Linked DNA regions of Homo sapiens. The protein of the gene in region 2 interacts with the protein of the main gene of each other region in a pairwise test. Each region holds a gene or a part of one and is shown on either strand. Other genes may lie near its edges. The genes, in order: EVL, ABI3 and DESI1.

Region 1 (3,823 bases), on a different chromosome or scaffold from region 2:
AATACAGAGGCTGGAGCAACATGAAGAAGGAAGAGTGAAGGCAAATAAGGGCACAGAAGGCTTTATCAGGCCCAACGGCAAAGCCTGCGAGCTGTGCTGAATTTAGCGCGTATGTCAGAATTTAGTTAGGGGAAGCCTTTGGAGGGAGGGTTTGAAGCAAAGGGAAAGACATCTCATAGAAGCTTAAGAAAATCACTCTGGGCCCTGTGTGGATAATGGCTGGCAGTGTGGCAAGAATGGAGGCAGGATGACCTCTTGGGAGGCTACCGCAGTCATCCAGGTAAGAGGTGAGGGTGGTTTGGGCCAGCAGTGGAGCAGTCAGGGTAGGCGGTGAGAAGTCACCAGATTCAGGAAGTGCCGTGGTGCTGTAGCCTCCAGGACTATCTGGTGGATCACACATGGGCGTGGGGGAAACATGAGTCAGACATGGCTTAGGTGGGTGGTGATTCCTTTCACCACGCTGGGGCAGCTGGGGTGCTAGCTGGAAGAATCTGTAGAGGTGTGGGCCTAGCAGCACAGGTTCCCAGGAAATGTGGGTTGAACAAGGCTGACCTGAGCAGGAAGTAGCTGAGGTCGCGGTGCAGCAGCAGGAAACGTGATATGGATGTGTGATATGTCTGCCACTTTTGGGGCCAGCCAGTTAATTTCGTTTCCTTCCCTGGTCTCTCTGTTGTCTTTGGTAGGCTGTGGGTTTTTCCGAAGCACGTACTATCTTCTAACGTATTATAGAACTTACTTGTTCTACTGTATACTGTCTTTACCCCTCAAGAATGTAAACTCCCAGAAGGCAGGGATTTTCGCCTATTTTGTTCAGTGGTGTATCCCCAGTGCCTAAAACATTGCCTGGCAATACACATTTATTGAACTGCTGGATTTAATTAACTACTTTGATATATGGTCCTAAAGATTCCTGTGCTACCAAAGTTGCTACTCAGTGGAGCTTCCTGGTGTGGCATGTTAGAGAAGAGACCAGAAAAACAGACATTTCACTTGCTGTCAGGTAGTGAAGGAGCTGTGGCTGCTTGGGCACAGTCATTACTGTTTATTCCACTGTGCTGCACATCTTGAAGCTGTAAAGATATAAGAAGTCTCGCACAGCCGGGGTTCAGCTTACAATCCTTCGCACCTAATTGTACGCCTTTGTGTGAGGGTTTGGAGGAGTCTCCAGGAACACCTGGTGTTTCCTTTCTCACAGGTATTTCCAGTCCTCACGGGCAAGTCAGAGAGTCCCAGAGGCAATTGAACAAGCCCTCAGAGATCACGTAGTCCGTTCACTCTCCATGGGAACCCGCACTTCCCTAGAGACCTGTAGCCAAATCATTTGGAGAGCTTCTGAAGCTTCTCTGCCTTCCTCTGTCTCAAAGAATCCCATGTGCCTCTAGTTGAGAAACATTCCTCTGGAGATTCTAGGTTATTCTCATGAGAATGTTACGATACTCAGGTGGGCTGGGGCAGAAAATGGATGAGAACTAGTGTAGTCCAATGGCTTTGCTTTGGTAACTGAACCCACAGAGGAGGAAAATAACAACAGCTCAGCTTTTCTCAGTGTTATACACCAACCATTACGCTAGTTACATGATATACATACTATTTAATTCTCATCCTTTGAGGTCTGGTATCACTATTGCCACTTTACAGATAAGAAAACAAGGGTTGGCCGGGTATGGTGGCTCACTCCTGTAATCCCAACACTTTGAGAGGCCAACGCAGGTAGATCACCTGAGCTGAGGAGTTCAAGACCAGCCTAGGCATCATAGTAAGACCTCCTCTCTTAAAAAAAAAAAAAAAAAGAAAGAAAGAAAATAAAATTAAAAAATGAAAATTAGCCAGATGTGATAGTGCATGCCTGAAGCCTATAGTCCCAACTTCTCAGGAGGCTGAGGTGGGAGGATTGCTTGAGCCCAGCAGTTCAAGCCTGCAGTGAGCTGTGATCACACTACTGCACTCCACCCTGGTGACAGAGCAAGACCCTACCTCAAAAAGAAAAGAAAACAAGGGCCTACAAAGTATCGTATTCCAGGTCACATTGTTGTCACTTGACGGAGCTTTTGATCTCTGAGAGGATCAAAATCTGCCCTCTCAGCTTTAACTTCTCAAAGCTAAACTTGTCCCAATTTGCAGAGTCAAGGGTAGAATCGAGGCCCTCCTGATCTCTATTTTGCAGTCTCCGTCATTCTGTGCTGTTAATACCACAAGAGACAAAAGAGACCTCGTCTGTCCTGTAGCACCCCGTGCCTGCGTGCGTATCTCTTGTCGATGCTCTGTCGGCTCAGGATCTCTCCTACCAGCCTAGAGCTCTTTCAGAGCAGGACGCTTGTGTTATGCATTCATGTTTGTCCCTGTGCCTAGTAAATAGCACAGAGTCCAAGTGGCTACTTGTGTCTTCAGGGGTGTTTGTAAGGGCAGAGCCGGGGTCTTCATTCCCAGGCTGTTGATTCATCCTTGGAGCTGAACATACTGTCCCAATCCTTGGCCCAAGCCAGGCCTCTACAGTTGTCCCAAGGCTGTGCTAAAACCTGTTCCACTTCACAAGTGATCAGAGTCACAGACTCTGGGGACACAAATTTTGAGATGAAGACACAGAGCAAAATATATAAATGTTTTTGAGGTTTGAGTAGCCTTAACGTCCACGTGGCTGTCAGATGGCTCCCCAAAGAAAGGGCTACGCCGGTGGCCTTGAAAGAGTATGGGAGATGCATATGAGACAGGGTCAGTCTAGGAATGTCAGACTCCCCCAACAGTTGGTTGGAGTGTTTTTCCAGATTGCACCAGACTTCACAGAGTAATGGAGACCAGCTGTCCAGGCATCTGAGAGGGTGACATCCAAGGAGAAAAGGCAAACGTCTTGATTGCCCATGATGTGGGCAACCAATTTGGATAGAAAAGAAGGTGTCAGGGTTTAACACTGAATGTAGACTTTATTTACCCAAAGCCTTTCTTTAATTCTAACACTCTCAAAAATGGGGCTCAGTCACCATTTGGGTTTCCCATGTTAATATGCAGAGAGCTAATTCATTGTCTTTCATTGCTGTAATGCAGCAGTTCTCAAAATGTACTCCAGAGATTGACCCTCCTAGGAGTCTGTAGATCAGAACTGTATTTATAATATTACTAAGACATCATTTGCCATTTCAGCTCTTGTCTCATGAATTCATGGTGGAATTTTCCAGAGCTATGTGATGTTTTGACATCATCACTGTGGCAGCTAATGAAATGTCTGCTTGTATATTCTTGTGTTTTAAAAAATTATTAGTTTTAATTTCAAATAAGGTGAATATGGATAGACTTAACCTACATAAAACAGAAGCTTTTTGGCATCCTCAATAATTGAGTGTAAAGGGGTTCTCTTGACCAAAAAAGTTTGAGAACTATGTGTGTAAAATAGTCAGTTGTATGGCTGCACTACAGACAGCAAGCATGGAATTGAAAATACCACCTGCAAGGTGGCGGTTCCCCCTGGTAGAGAGGAGGGGCTCTGGGTCTGGGAGGAGGATGCAGGCGTCACTTGAACTAAACAGCTTTATGACTTGCTGTCAGATTTCCTAGACTGTGTGGTGGGATCGTGGGAACCTACTTCTCACAGGCCTGAAGTACTTCACAATAAACATTTTAAGTCTACTTCATAGCATGAAACCTGTTTCACACCTGTGCCCATTAAGAAAAAAAAATGGCACCCTATAAATGATTTAATAATTACTAAGGGGAAAATATAGCTTTCCATTGGAGATCTGGCAGTCACCTCTTAACCAACCTACAGTCTACATTCAGTTGGCCTGAATTCTTCACACACACAACATCTTTATCAATGAAAAATTTTTAAATA
Region 2 (3,600 bases):
CTACAGTTCGAAAGGGTGGGAACTCTGGTCTGCGGCGGGGGAGGAAAAGACACACCCCACCCACTGAACATGTGGGTGATGTACAGGCCAGGCCAAATGTGTGGCTGGGTCTGTGCATGTGCTTTATGGGGCAATTCCTCGGTCAAGGATCCAGGAAGGAAGGAGGAGGGTGTGTGCGCTAGAACACTGTGGCGGGGTGGAGGGTGTATACTGTATAGTGGTGGCTGTGCTTCCAGGGCTGAAGATGACCTTGTCAAGCTAGCACCCTGGGTCTGGGATATTTATGAGGGCACTGCTTGTATTTAGATGCAAACAGGGTTCATTTGCTTCTTTCCTGTATAGGGCGCTGCTGTGATTGGTAGATAACACTTTCTCATGTCCAGGATATAATTCCGAGAAAGAAAAAGCTCTGCCTTCGGGGAATTTGTAGCGTAGCCACAGAGATAAGGAGGTCCAAAAAGCTTGGGAAGTGCCAACCTTCTGCTGTAGAGTTGGGCATTTGGACATGGAGGAAAGCAGGAAGGAACTTTTGATGTAGAAAATGTCTGAGTCGGGCTGAAGAGTTGAGGCCTGACACAAGATGCCTTCCCACGCCCCACGCCCCTTACCTGGCCCAGCGTGCTTACACGGGCTTCCACCTGCCGCAGGGCGGCCCCCTGCAGGTCCAACATGCGCAGAGTGTGCCCGGCCAGGTTGCCCACCTGGTAGGCCACGCTGGCCAGTGCCTGGGTAGTGAAGGCCATGGTCTCCTCCAGCGCCTTCCGCTTGTCTGTGGCCTGAAATACACACAGCCCTGGCCTAAGGGCCAGCATCTTCCACTGGGTCCTTGGCTGGCTGGGGTGGGATGGGAGAGGATATAGGGAAAGTAGGGGCTGGATTGGGAGAGAGCAGCAACCCTTAGATGTTTGAGGTGGCTCCCAGCAGAATGATGTAGCAAGAGGAACTTGCTACAACATCACTTTAAATTCACTTTAAAAAAGTGAATCTGCAGCCTTGGGGAATGGATGCAAAGGGAGGGAAAGATACCCATTCTCAAATAGTTAAGCTGAGGACTGAGTACAGATGATAGTACAACCCTCCTGAAGACTTCAGTAACAGGCTGTCCTTTTAGGGGTTGGAGTGGGGGTGAATAGTAGAAAGGAAAGAGGAAGGCAACACTGGCTAGAGCAGACATTCTTTTTTTTTTTTTTTTTCTGAGATGGAGTTTCACTCTTGTTGCCCAGGCTGGAGTGCAGTGGTGCGATCTCGGCTCACCACAACCTCCGCCTTCCGAGTTCAAGCGATTCTCCTGCCTCAGCCTCCCAAGTAGTTGGGATTACAAGCATGTGCCACCACGCCCAGCTTATTTTGTAATTTTTTTTTTTTAGTAGAGACAGGGTTTCTCCATGTTAGTCAGGCTGGTCTCAAACTCCCGACCTCAGGTGATTTGCCTGCCTCAGCCTCCCAAACTGCTGGGATTACAGGCGTGAGCCACCGTGCCCAGCCGACATTTTTAAACACAACAAACCATGTCAGGCACGGTGGCTTACACCTGTAATCCCACTACTTTGGGAGGCCCAGGCGGGCAAATCACTTGAGGTCGGGAGTTTGAGACCAGCCTGGCTACAATGGCAAAACCTCGTCTCTACTAAAAATACAAAAATTAGCCAGGCATGGTGGTGCCTGCCTGTAATCCCAGCTACTCAGGAGGCTGAGGCATGAGAATCACTTGAACCCGGGAGGCGGAGGTTGCAGTGAGCCAAAATCACATCACTGCACTCCAGCCTGCGTGACAGAGTGAGACCCTGTCTCAAAATCAAACCAAAAAAAAAAGCTTTCCATGTGACTGTTTAGCTCCAGTCTGCAGATTGGTGTCTGGGAACTCAAATAAGGAAACTGAGGCCCAGAACAGAGGGACTTTATTCATTCATTCCCTCTAATAGCTTTCCAATACCCTGAGGATAAAATTCAAGCTTCTAACCGTGGCCTACGTACAGCCCCTCCAGGTCTGGCTCCTGCCTTTCTCTTCACCTTCATCCCCTTTAATCCAACTTCACCACTCCCCCTCTCACACACTCCCCTTCAGCCACATTGGCCATTGGGCTTCTGTTCCTGAACAAGCTGAACTGTTTCTGCCTCGGGGCCTTGGCATGTGCTGTACTTATTTTCAGAATCCTTATTAGCAGGCCTCAGCTTCTCAGAGACACCTTCCTTCACCACACTAAGATTTCCCCCAGCCCACGCCTTCACTGCCTCTTTATCATATTTACCTTGTTCTCTTTTCTTCATGGTATTTAGCAGTATCAAACATTCTCTATGTATTTTTTTCGTTATCTACGCCCCCTTGCCTTAAACGGAAGTGTCATGAGAGCAGGGAGCTTGTCTGTTTCATCCTGTATCCCGTCATGGAATCACACCCAACACGCAAAAGATTCTTCATAAATATGCACTCGTGAGTTAATTAGCAGGTCGAATGGGAACCCAAACATTCTCTGGGCACATTCCCACTGTATTCTAGGCACTGTGCCAGGCACTGGCCAGGGTCACACTGCCAGTCAGTGCAGGAGGAGTAAGCAGGCAGTGGCTGAAGGCAAGAAGTTTTTTTTGTTTGTTTTTCGAGACAGAGTTTTGCTCTTGTTGCCCAGGCTGGAGTGCAATGGCACAATCTCAGCTCACCCCAACCTCCGCCTCCTGGGTTCAAGCGATTCTCCTGCCTCAGCCTTCCGAGTAGCTGGGATTACAGGCATGCACCGCCACGCCCAGCTAATTTTTTGTATTTTTAGTAGAGATGCGGTTTCTCCATGCTGGTCAGGCTGATCTTCAACTCCTGACCTCAGGTGATCTGCCTGCCTTGGCCTCCCAAAGTGCTGGGATTACAGGCGTGAGCCACTGCGCCTGGCCAAGAAATTTTTTTTTGTTGGTCCCAGATCAGGCAGTGGGGGCTAGGGCAAAACTTCTCCGGTCTTTTGGTTCCCCGGGCAGCTTCCTCATCTCTGGTCGGGTCATGGAGTTGCCATACTCTAGCCTGTACCTTTCTAAGGCAGGTAGGGGGCAAGTCCAGGGTGAATGTGGAGTAGGGCCAGTGGGCCAACAGGCAAGGCTGCACACTGGGGTCCCCTTGCTTGAGCCCTCGGGTGCCCCTCAGGGCCTGTCAATGGAGAACAGACCTACAAACTCTCAGAGCAAGGTCTGAGACACCTGGGAGCCTCTAATGGAGCCTGAGCCAGAACCTTCTGGGCAGCCCATGCGATGGCTCTCTCCTCCTTGTCTTTCTTTTCCAACAGCAGGAAAGAGATGCTCATTTGCATGTCATTTACATCTCATTAGCATATGCACCAAAACTTACATCTCCTCAGCATAGGTCACCAAGAAGATTGAATAGGCAAAGAAATCAACCCAGGATATTAACACCAGACAGGAGAGCAGATTTTGATTTAGTTCAGGACCTTCCTTTACTAAATGAGGAAACAGGCCCAGAACTGAGCAGTGACTGCTCCTTCATCTCCACCCAGATTTCTTAGCTTGCCTGCCTTCTTCTGTACAGTTTCCTCCCCAAACGAACATGTGGAATTGTTGGCCCAAACAGGAAAAGTGTCTGCTTGGGCCCAGCTCTGGGCATCT
Region 3 (3,823 bases), on a different chromosome or scaffold from region 2:
AGGCGGAGCTTGCAGTGAGCCTAGATCGTGCCACTGCACTCCAGCATGGGTGACAGAGCGAGACTCCGTCTCAAAAAAAAAAACCAACAAAAAAAAAACACTTGACTGATGTAATCTATTAATGAGTAACAGCTTCCTCAGTGACTTTGTAAGTTTTGCTTTCAGATGTGCCTCAATCATTTTAACAACTGGTTATCTAGGCCCAAATCCCTGTCAAATAATGGGTTGGCTACATAAGAATTAGCTGATAAGCTCATTAAAAATACAGATTTTTGGACCAAAACTCCAGGAGATTCTGATTTAGTATTTGTGAAGCCTTAGAATCCATATAATTAAAATTTTCTCATTTTAAATAGATATTATGTGTATGTAATACACAGGTCCAGAGGTAAGAAACAGTTTACAGCAAAGTTTCTCTTCTACCCCTGTTCCCCTGGCATCAAGTTCCCCTTTCCATAAGCTACTGCTGTTATCAATTTCTTGTGTATCCTTACGGATAATTATTTGCCTAAGCAAGCACATATATATCCTTTGATTTGCATATTTAAAGAGCTATTCTAACCTTGTTTTTTCTAATCTCATTTACAATATATGTTGGAAATGAGGGTATCTGCATTTTTAACAAGCACCCTAGATGATTTTGATGTGAAGCCAAATATAGAAACAACTCATGGACCCACGGTTGTGAGATTAAGTTCAATTCACTACGACATATTAGAAACTCAAGGACATTGAAGGATGCCCTCAAAAGTAGCCTCCCTTACTTGATCTCTGCCCCCTCGTCTCACAGAGATGAACTAAATCATTCGCCAGTGTCTCCACAGAAGCCAGGAAAAACTAGCCATTCAAATGGATGCTGTCAAAGCTTCAATTTTCAATAATTGGAATTCTTTCCTGCTCATTGTTACCCGAAATTACAAACCTGACAATTCCTGTGTTACACAAGACATTCCTGTATTTAAGTTGAAATAAGGTGTGATCGTCACTGAATGAGGGCTGGTTTTTCTCCTGCCAGTTAAGTAGTTTAATGGAGCACAACCGAAATACTTTCTTTACTAATCCTTATTCACACAGCCTCATCCAAACTTCCCCCAAAACTGCTTTCTTGCCATTTGAGCAAAAGCAATTAACTTAGAAACTGTGGGGAGAAGACTGCTTGGTGAATTCTGGAGTTCGGGGCTCCTCTTATCCTGACTTGACCTACCTGGGGGCGATGGCTGGGTCCCTAGGCAGCTCTATCTCCCCCATCCCACCTATCCCTGGGACTGCAAAGGGAGCTTCCTTTTGGCACTGAGACAAGGTTCTCCGAGAGCCACCCGACCTCCGCAGTGTCTCTGTCACCACGAGGGGCACCGCGCGGCAGGCATCCTCACCTTTCCTACACCGCGCCAAGGAGGCAGGAGTGCACTGGGCTACCCGAGCGAGGCAGAGAACCCGCCGGGATCCAGCGCTGGTTTACCCCACACCCTCGTCGAAGGGGCTCTCGAGGGCTCGGTTTCTGCCCAAGCCCCCTGCAAGGTGGAGGCATGACTCCTCCATCCCTTCCCCTTGAATTCAAACGTGAGGATGGTATCTGCGAGGCTAAAGCGGGGCTCAGATGGCCCAAACTTCAGACCACTCTCTTCTCCACTCGGCTTTTCTTCCATCCTCCTGGCCATGTGTCTCCCCGTGAGTCGTGGCCCAAGTCTCCCCACCTCGGCCAGCCGCCACCCTCTGGCCTGGCTCCCGCCCTCCTGCCCACCTGGCCCCTTCCCCCTCACCCAGCATGATGGGGCTGAGCCGCCGGGCCAGGCCTTTGGACAGGTCGTACACGTAGAGCTTCACCGGATAGAGATTCGGCGGCTCCATTGGGACCCGTGGCGACGGCGGCCACGACGGCCCTCGGGCACCCGGCAGCGGCTTGGACCTTCCCGTACCCGACGGGAGTGCGAAGCGGAGGGAGAGGGGGGGACCGAGCCCGGGCCCGGGCTGAGGGGTGGGGGAGAGGCCGCCCTGCGCTGCTCGCGCCCCCACACCCGCTACCGGCAACGACTACTGTGAGGTGACAGAGAGGGGACAGGGAGGGCCCACACGGAAGAGGGGGCGGGGGCAGGGATGCACTTTTGCGCATGTGCTTACAGTCCTGACGTAGGAAGGGGCGGGGCTTTGCCGAAGGGGGCGGGGCTCTCGCTGATGGGTTGGCTTTCGTCAGGGACATAGGTAGAAGCTGGTTGGGGAGTGTGCGTGCCAGCCTGACGCGATATAGTGCGCACATGCGTGATGACGTAGAGGGCGTTGATTGGGACCGAGTACAGGGCCCGCGCATGCGTGGATTGTCGTCTTCTGTCCAAGTTGGTCGCTTCCCTGCGCCAAAGGTAAGCGGGCCGTTATCCATTTGTGTTGTTCGCCAGCTAGGCCTGGCCTCGTCCCGCTTCGCTCGGTCGGTCTCGCGCGCCCCCATAGCCTTGCTAGAGGGTTAGCGTTAGCCTTAAGTGTGCGAATCCGAGGAGCAGCGACAGACTCGAGACCACGCTCCTTCCTCGGGAAGGAGGCGGCACCTCGCGTTTGAGGCCCGCCTGCGTTTGAGGCCCGCCTGCGCTTGCGGCCCGCCTGCGCTTGAGGCCTGTCTGCGTTTGAGATCTCATTGGGCGTGATTGAGGAATTTGGGGAGGTTTTTGGGCGGTATTGAGGACGAGGGGGTCCGTTAGTCAGCATAGAATCCTGGAGCGGGAATCCCTCACCGTCTAAATGGCGTCGGGGGCGGGACCTCCGGGATCTGGCTTCCGCGGGCCGCCGCCGGCCCTGAAACGTGAGGGATAGCTGAGATGAGGCAGCTACTGGGATGGCCCCCATGCGCATTTACATGCAGTCCGACTGCCGAGCTTTCGAGGCAGCAGGATTTACCGTCCACATTCCTCACTACTAACCAAGCTTTTAGAACAGATCTCACAAGAACCTAGAGGTCGGTATTTTTTCGATTTAAATTTGCCTGTTACTGACGTTAACGTCTTTCGCCTAGTGAGCAGTAGCCAACATGTCAGGGTGGGAGTCATATTACAAAACCGAGGGCGATGAAGAAGCAGAGGAAGAACAAGAAGAGAACCTTGAAGCAAGTGGTAAGTGACTTCAGCATGTAGTGCCATTCGGTGTGTGGAAGAAAGACCTTCCCTGCCTATCTCTGCTGGATGGACTTTGCTGTTTGATGGCCTGCCCTTCTCCTCCCAGATAATTCTGAAATTCTTTTCTTCCTTTGAACTTCGCAGAGCTACCCTAGGCTCTTATATGCAGATCTTACTCTAGTGTGCCCTAAGTTTTTTTTGGACACTGGTAGTTTGACATCTTTTGGTCCCTGATAAATGGCCATGACCATAGGTATTTTTTGTCATCTTAAGTGGTTCAGGTGAGACCCTTCTCATCCAGGAAAGTAGTGTTACCATTCCAGGACCTCAGTGTAAAAATGCCCCCACCCTGCAATAACTACACCAACCAAAGAATAAACGCAAGCAACACAGTTACAGGAAAGTGATTGATTCCCTCACTATAGCCTCCACGTTTGGGAGTGTATGTGCAGGCAACACAGTAACACATAAAACAAAGGAAGAGAAATAGGGGTACATGTAATCTTCATACTGGTTAATTTAACTCCTGAGCAGAAAAATTTTGAATATTTTTATTAAAAATGAGAAACGGCCAGGCGCGGTGTCTCAAGCCTGTAATCCCAGCACTTTGGGAGGCCGAGGCGGGCGGATCACGATGTCAGGAGATCAAGACCATCCTGGTTAACACGGTGAAACCCCGTCTGTACTAAAAAAAAAATACAAAAAATTAGCCGGGCGTGGTGGCG

Evidence for each region.
Region 1: the proteins of ABI3 (region 2) and EVL interact in binary tests that used the Homo sapiens proteins (3 or more experiments, as listed by UniProt).
Region 3: the proteins of ABI3 (region 2) and DESI1 interact in binary tests that used the Homo sapiens proteins (3 or more experiments, as listed by UniProt).

What each region holds. Positions count from the first base shown.
Region 1 is NC_000014.9:100,068,290-100,072,112, forward strand, and holds part of EVL (ena/VASP-like protein), read left to right. Parts: intron 1-3,823. UniProt on the Homo sapiens protein: Ena/VASP proteins are actin-associated proteins involved in a range of processes dependent on cytoskeleton remodeling and cell polarity such as axon guidance and lamellipodial and filopodial dynamics in migrating cells.
Region 2 is NC_000017.11:49,213,707-49,217,306, reverse strand, and holds part of ABI3 (ABI gene family member 3), read right to left. Parts: intron 777-3,600; coding exon 609-776; intron 1-608. UniProt on the Homo sapiens protein: May inhibit tumor metastasis. In vitro, reduces cell motility.
Region 3 is NC_000022.11:41,618,992-41,622,814, forward strand, and holds the start of DESI1 (desumoylating isopeptidase 1), read right to left. Parts: upstream 2,053-3,823; 5' UTR 1,849-2,052; coding exon 1,761-1,848; intron 1-1,760. Other genes in the region: XRCC6 (X-ray repair cross-complementing protein 6), read left to right, coding at 3,014-3,095. UniProt on the Homo sapiens protein: Protease which deconjugates SUMO1, SUMO2 and SUMO3 from some substrate proteins. Has isopeptidase but not SUMO-processing activity. Desumoylates ZBTB46. Collaborates with UBQLN4 in the export of ubiquitinated proteins from the nucleus to the cytoplasm.